Linked DNA regions of Homo sapiens. The protein of the gene in region 1 interacts with the protein of each later gene in a pairwise test. Each region holds a gene or a part of one and is shown on either strand. Other genes may lie near its edges.

Region 1 (3,917 bases):
TGAGCTGTATATCTTCTGAACAGCAATGGGGCTCTTATGCAGAAAGTATCATATGTTCCCAGCCAATTTACAGGGAAACAGCAATAACATTTTATCATGGTTGAGAGCCCAGTAGCTGCTTCCTATTAAACTTGCCCTTTCAGATACCTGTCTTGGATTAATTTGTTGATTTCGAATGGAAACTCAGTCTTCTCCAGTGAAGCATGACGTTCTAGGATAGACTCTGAATGACAATTACTGTGTATTCTAGCTGGTTTCAGACCATTACAAGCCTTGGGCACAGTGGAAAACAGAGGACTTCAGTAACTGATTTTAATATCATGTCTAATTTTAACTGTCAGTTATGTATGTGCCAGAGAACGAATCCTCAGAAAGATGAAATGCAAAACACTTCTAACTTGCTCTTTTTAATGATACACTTTGCTGCGGGTGGGGGCAGGGGGAGGGAAGTGGAGAGGGAATAACTATCTCCTGAAGGGAATCAGCACGGTGGGGAAGCATCAGATTTGAAAAGTGAGAATGAAACAACTGCCACCTGATTTTTTGTGTGTGCCCCTCAGGATGCTTCTAAATAGTAATGTGTTCACCAGAAAGGGTTTCCATCAATCAATACCAGTACTTTTCCTTGAACATTCAAGAAAAATGTAGGGTTTTACAAAGTTAGGATAATTAGCTTTGCTCACCATTTTGTTGAATATTATAGAAAAGAGTGAATTTCCTTAGCTGTAAAAGCTCTTGTGAGCTACTACTGAGTGTAACCTGGTAGATTAGAAAGAAGGAAGGAATTCTGCTGCTTTAAATATGATGAACCATCTTAAAAGATCTAAGTTAGGAAGCCCTGAAATTATATTTCAAATGGAGAGAGAAAGTGACGTTTTGGAGTCTTTAAAAGTATTTTCTCCTTATGGAGCATATTAGATGTATGCATTCTTGAACATTTGGTACTTTGCAGTTATAGCAAATTAACTAATTGTTAATTGTGATTTTACTTTTCACAATTATTCCCTAAGCACACTGGCTTTATCTTTTCCTAAGTGATATACTACAGTAGCATACTGATAGCCTAATCTTATTTAAAAGGAGAAAGCAAGCATCAGTAGCATACTATGCATGCAGTGAACTTGGATCTTTATAAAAGAATGAATGAAACTGTTGGGTTTCTCTCTGGGAATCTACAGTTGAACAGAATGAATGATAGCCAATTTAGACTGAATTTCTGTATCTGTTACAATCCTTAGTAAAATCCATCACTATAACATGGGCCACCATATGAATTCAGATACATGATATGCCACATAGCAGTCTGGGAACCACAGCTACCCCTTGAAAGCCTGATTACATAACAGTTGTATTATGTGGTAATTCCATACATATTTTTGGCTGTTAGCCTCAGCCCCCTGCTCTAGCATCTGAAAAAATGTTTTATTGGCCATGATATTCAGATTTTGAAATAAACAGGCATGTGTTTTAGACACACAGAGTAAACAATCTGAGCGTGCCAAGATGCACAGTTTGTTTAACATTTACATAAGTGTCTCTTTTCAGTGTTTTTTTTATTTTCTGGAAGAGGTTGGTTTTAAGAAAAAGTGGAAAGCTTTTATGACAATTGTTTCATAATGGCTCTGTGTATGAAAGAAACCAAATAAATTGCTAGGAATAAAGTTTTATTTGAAACTTGATTCAGTGATACCTAGCAAAATTGTGCTTCCCAAACTGCATTATATCTTTAGAATCCAAGTAATGGAGCATTTTGATTCTATTATTTTTTCTAGGGTCCACATTGAACAGCCGTTTATGCCATCAGCCCAGTGATAGAACAAATGATGTTTCTGCTTGGGCAAGCTTTGTTTTATCAGGATCAGTAACCTTATCAGCAGTTGACCCAGAACTATAATGCATGTCTCTGAATAGATAGCATATGTCACAACTCTGTGCAGACTTGCTTCATAAGCAAGATTGTCTAATAAAGATTTAATAAATAAGGAAAAGTTTGCAGCAAAAAGTCTTCTTTTATAATAACTTTTCTTAAGCTCGTTTACAGCTCCTGGCTCATCTCTTGCATTTATTCTCATAAAAACTAAAGGAATAAACATACATATAAATGCATTCACACAGACTCCCATGATGCATCGTTTATCTGTCAGTATTTCTTTCTGAAATATATCATTTGTGGGTAAAGAATGTAGAATTTAAATTATCATATTGTTTTAAGGTTCTTATGTGACATATAAATGTAGTAATGTCCAAAGACTAGAAAACCCATGAGTGTGATAAACCAACAATATTTTTATGCAATTGTATATTATTTTTTCTTAATAATAGGATAACATAGAAGGTTTTCTCCAAATGCAAAATGGTCCTGGCTCAAAAATATTCTTATTTAACCAGTAGTGTTTAGTACTCTATAATTCAAAATTGGATTCTTCACTCTCGTATCAACCTGCTTAGATTTTAGAAGACATATAATAAATGGAGAGAGAAGATGGAGCATCCCCATACATAAATAAGTCACGCACGACGTGTACATTTTGACACTTAACACTTCTTTTCTTTGACCTTTGACAGGTTAGGGCTTGACCCAAAACTACTGGCTAAAATCCTAAATATGAGCTCAGGACGGTGTTGGTCAAGTGACACTTATAATCCTGTACCTGGAGTGATGGATGGCGTTCCCTCGGCTAATAACTATCAGGGTGGATTTGGAACAACACTCATGGCTAAGGTATGGTAAATGTAGACACCCAAGAGAGAAGGAAAAACGTTTCACGGTCCAATAACACCTTCCTTCTCTTTCTCTTAATAAAGCATATGTCTCAGGTAAGAGGCAAAATTACTAGAATATTCACTCTCACTGAAAATGAGTAAAAACCTAACTTAGATGAAAATCCTTATCTTGTTCATTTTTATTCCTGGCCTTTTGGTTGAGAAGAATGGGCCAGACCATGTGTGTGTGTGTATGTGTGTGCGTGTGTGTGTGTGTGCGCACTTGGGTTTATTTATATGAGCCGGTAAAATTTCGTTCACCATTAATTTATGTTAATTTACCAACTTCTTAAATGAGAACAGTGAGAATTTTCTCATTGTTAATAATACACTGGCAGTGCATATATGCATCACGAAGAGAGGATTTTCCCATTGATAATAGATTTCCAAATACATCTTCCTGCTTTAAGATTTTAATATATGGATTTATATATAAAAACTAGTTAAGTCATTGGAAAAGCAAACTGTCATCCTTCTCTTATTTGAGATCTCAACTTTAGAAAGTCTATGTTCTCAACTACAGAAAATAATTTTTAGACCAGCTAACTTTCAGATTTCTGCAGTGCTTATTTTCTCCCAGTTGAGGGTTGGTTTTTGTTTGTTTGTTTGTTTGTTTGTTTTTCCTGATTAAAAAGTAAGAATACGGCCAGGCGCGATAGCTCATGCCTTTAATCCCAGCATTTTGGGAGGCCGAGGAGGGCAGATCACCTGAGGTCAGGAGTTCGAGACCAGCCTGGCTAACATGGTGAAACCCAGTTTCTACTAAAAATAAAAAAAATTAGTCGGGCGTGGTGGTGCGTGTCTGTAAGCCCAGCTACTCAGGAGGCTGAGGCAGGAGAATCGCTTGAACCCGGGAGGTGGAGATGGCAGTCAGCTGAGATAGCACCATTGCACTCCAGCCTGGGCAACAGAGTGAGACTTCGTCTCAAATAGAAAAAAAAAAAGAAAAAGAATACATATACCTAGATACCACACAAGCATACCTTGGAGATATTGTGGGTTCAGTTCCAGACAACCACAACAAGTCACACAAATTTTTTGGTTTCCCAGTACATATAAAAATTACGTTTATACTATGCCATAGTCTATTAAGTGTGCATTAGCATTATGTCTAAACAATATACGTATCTTAATTTTAAAATGCTCTATTGCTA
Region 2 (3,917 bases), on another chromosome or scaffold:
TCGCTGTCTTCGCCTTCACCTCGGTTGTGGACCTCATCATCGCTCTTCAGGAAGACAGCTATGTGGTGGGCTTCATGGAGTTCTACACCAAGGAGGTACTTGGGGGACGACCAGGGAGCCCCCTACCGCACTGCCCGTCTGAGTCTCCCACCTGCCCCCACAGGGAGAGCCATACCTGCGCACAGCGCACGGAGTCTTCATCTGCTACTGGGATGGCACTGTTCACTACCTCCTCTACCTGGCCATGGCCGGCGCCATCTGCAGAAGGTGCAGGAGGCAGGGAGAGGGTGGCCCCTGACCCTGGGAGAGAAGTTGCATCCTCAGATGGGGTCCCAGGGCAGGGTGGAGCCAGAAGTGTCTGTAGGAGAAATCAGGACGCCTCTCTAGGGCTCCAGCCAGGGGTGGCCAGGAGAAGGTTCCAGGGAACGTCTCAGGTGTAGGTGGTGGCCTAGCATTGCTTACATCCACCCTGTGCCTGGGCAGCCACTTCTGTTCTTGGACAGAGGGTCTCACTGTTATTTCCCCGTTCAACTCCCTGTTGTCCCTTCCATCCTGGGCAAAACTGAAAGGGACCCGGAGCTGGGAAACCCACGGTGGTCTCCAGGCCCTGGCTGGGGCTCTGAGATTACGGAGTGACTACCTGCTGGTCACCCCTCCATCCCCTGCTCAGGAAGAGATACCGGAATTTTGGACTCTACTGGCTGGGTTCCTTCGCCATGAGCATCCTGGTGTTCCTTACAGGAAACATTCTTGGTAAGGACAAGGCTTTGGGAAATCCAGGTTCTCTTGGGCTTGGTCACTGCCCTGCACCTAGAAGCACCCCCATTGGATCCTCCATCCCTTCCCTGATGTCTGCAGAGGCCCCACCTCCCTCTTTGCGTGTCCACAGCCTCAGTCAGCAGCCCACCCCTTTCCGGTCCCTGTTTCCTCTTGGAAGGCGGGAGAACCCAACTCTGCTTCCTCCCCAGGCAATGGTTCCCAGCCCCAGGGGTTTGACCCAGAATGGTCTTGACACAGGAAGGGAATTTTAGGGTGAATCTTGGGGACAGGGTGAAAGCTTCAGGGGTAGGTCTTGGGAGGTAGAGCAGTGAAGGCAGTCTGGGAGGTTGGCATGGCAAAACCTCAGCAAAGGGAACACTCAAGGTGTATTTGTAGGAAGCAAAGAACCCACTGGAAGGTAGGATCCATATTCAGAAGGTAAATTGAGGCAGGCTAGGCTAAGGAGTATGGACATCATCCTGTGGGCACTAGGGAGCCATGGAAGGTGGTGGAGCTTGAATGAGGATGGTATTTCTGAATCAAGATGTCCAGCCAGAGAGGCCACGTGTGGTGGCTCATGCCTGTAATCCTTATGTTGCTCAGGCTGGTCTCCAACTCTCGGCTCAAGCAATCCACCTGCCTCATCAATCACTTGAGCCGTGGAGATCAAGATCAGCCTGGGCAGCATGGTGAAACCCTGCCTATACTAAAAGTACAAAAATTAGCCAGGTATAATCCCAGCTACTCAGGAGGCTGAGACAAGAGAATTGCTTGAACCTGGGAGGCAGAGGTTGCAGTGAGCCAAGATTGCATCACTGCACTCCAGCCTGGGTGACAGAGCAAGACTCTGTCTCAGAACAAACAAACAAACAGATGTCCAGCAGGGTTCTGGCATGGCTGATGCCCTCTCTCCTGCACCATGGAAGGCAAATACAGCTCCGAGATCAGGCCTGCCTTCTTCCTCACCATCCCCTACCTGCTGGTGCCATGCTGGGCTGGCATGAAGGTCTTCAGCCAGCCCCGGGCGCTAACCCGCTGCACCGCCAACATGGTGAGTGCCTTACCCCTCTTAGGCCTTGTCCCAATGTGCCTGAACTTTCCCCGTGTCAGTTGCTTTTGGTCAAAGACTTAATTTCTGTGGAAGGTTCTCCTTTGTCACAAGAAAGAAGGGAGGGCTGGGTGCGGTGGCTCATGCCTGTAATCCCAACATTTTGGGAGGCCAAGGCATGAGGATCGCTTGAGCCCAGGAATTGGAGACCAGCCTGGGCAACACAGCCAGATTTTTTAACTCTACAAAAAGTTAAAAAATTAGCCAGATGTGGTGGTGCATGCCTGTGGTCCCAGCTATTCGGGAGGCTGAGGTGGGAGGATCACTTGAGCCCAGGAGATTAAGGCTGCAGTGAGCTGAGACTGTGCTGCTTCACTCAAGCCTGGGCAACAGAATGAGACCCTGTCTCAAAAAAAAAAAAAAAGAAAAAAGAAAAAAAAGAAAAAAAGAAAGAAGGGAGGAGCCTTAGGAACCTTTATTGAGTACCTACTGAATACTTGTCATTGACTACCTCTCATGCTGTCTGTTTCTCTCCCCTGGGCCAGGTGCAAGAGGAACAAAGAAAGGGACTCCTGCAGCGTCCGGCTGACCTGGCCCTTGTCATATATCTCATCCTTGCTGGCTTCTTCACTCTGTTCCGGGGCCTGGTGAGTCTGCGCTGGTTGGTCTCCCCCTCCCCTGCCACCAGTCTCCCTTCCCTGACCCACCTCTCCCACACTGCCCTTCCTGTTTGATCATCCAAGGAAGTTCTTCATCAAGTCTAACCTGAGTGTTCCATGACAAAGCCCCATTTCTCCCAGCCAGCCCAACTTGAGCTGGGCTGGGAGAGGCCAGAGCAAGGGGTGTGGGCCTGGGAGGGTGGGGGAGGCTTCCTGTGGGAGGTATGTCTGAGGGTTCTTGGTATGTCTGTCTGCTCCAGGTGGTGCTTGATTGCCCCACAGATGCCTGCTTTGTCTATATCTACCAGTATGAGCCATACCTGCGGGACCCTGTGGCCTACCCTAAGGTGCAGGTGAGAGGGGAGCGGGGAGAAGACCACACCCCTGCCATGGGTAGGGGTCCACTGGGCCTCTTTGAAGCAGGTGCCAGAAGCACAACTCAAACAGGCAGAAGCCCATATGGAATTTACTGTCCTACCAAAAAAGGACAGATGTGGTCTTCAGGTATGGCTGGATCCAGGTGCTCAAGGTGCAGACTCTGGGCTCTTCTTTTCTTTTCTTTTCCTTTCTTTTCTTTCTTTCTTTTTCTTTTTTTTTTTTTTTTTTAAACAGAGTTTTGCTCTTGTGGCCCAGGCTGGAGTGCAATGGCATGATCTCGGCTCACTGCAACCTCCACCTCCTGGGCTCAAGTGATTCTCCTGCCTCAGCCTCCCAAGTAGCTGGGATTACAGGCGTGAGCCACCATACTCAGCTAATTTTGTATTTTTAGTAGATACGGGGTTTTGCCATGTTGGTCAGGCTGGTCTCGAACTCCTGACCTCAAGTGATCCACCCACCTCGGCCTCCCAAAGTGCTGGGATTACAGGCATGAGCCACCATGCCCGGCCTCTGAGCTCTGCTTTCTTTGCATGGCTTCACTCTCAGGCAGTCCCTTTATGGGGTGGCAGAGACAGCCTGTGGCAGCTTCAGGCTTCCATGCACCCCACTCAGCCACCCCAGAGCAATGTGAGCCCTTATTACCCCCGAGCTTAAGCACAAGTCTTAGGCAGGCTCAGATTGGCCCAGCGTGAATCACTTGCCCATCCCTTACTGAGCATCATGGACAGGGGGCTGGAATGCTCCGACTGGCTAGGCCAGGGTCGCATGCCACTTTCAGAGAAAGGTTAGTAGGTTTGGTGTATGTGTTCGGGGGTTGGGGGCAAGGATCCCCAAGGGAAATAGAGGAGCACTTTGCAGAGAGCCTGGGTGGGGTCTGAGGCCATCCAGATCCTTCCTCAGGGCCTCCACCTCAGGGGTCTCAGGAGACCCACCTGGGGTAGCTGCTCATCTCACAGGCTGGTGCCCCTCTCCTCCCGCCCCTGCAGATGCTGATGTACATGTTTTATGTCCTGCCTTTCTGCGGCCTGGCTGCCTATGCTCTCACCTTCCCTGGTTGCTCCTGGCTTCCAGAC

The links.
Region 2: the proteins of HIBADH (region 1) and TM6SF2 interact in binary tests that used the Homo sapiens proteins (3 or more experiments, as listed by UniProt).

Annotation. Positions count from the first base shown.
Region 1 is NC_000007.14:27,529,997-27,533,913, reverse strand, and holds part of HIBADH (3-hydroxyisobutyrate dehydrogenase, mitochondrial isoform 1 precursor), read left to right. Parts: intron 1-2,565; coding exon 2,566-2,722; intron 2,723-3,917.
Region 2 is NC_000019.10:19,266,523-19,270,439, reverse strand, and holds part of TM6SF2 (transmembrane 6 superfamily member 2), read left to right. Parts: coding exon 1-95; intron 96-163; coding exon 164-267; intron 268-670; coding exon 671-753; intron 754-1,685; coding exon 1,686-1,810; intron 1,811-2,352; coding exon 2,353-2,454; intron 2,455-2,726; coding exon 2,727-2,819; intron 2,820-3,830; coding exon 3,831-3,917. UniProt on the Homo sapiens protein: Regulator of liver fat metabolism influencing triglyceride secretion and hepatic lipid droplet content. May function as sterol isomerase.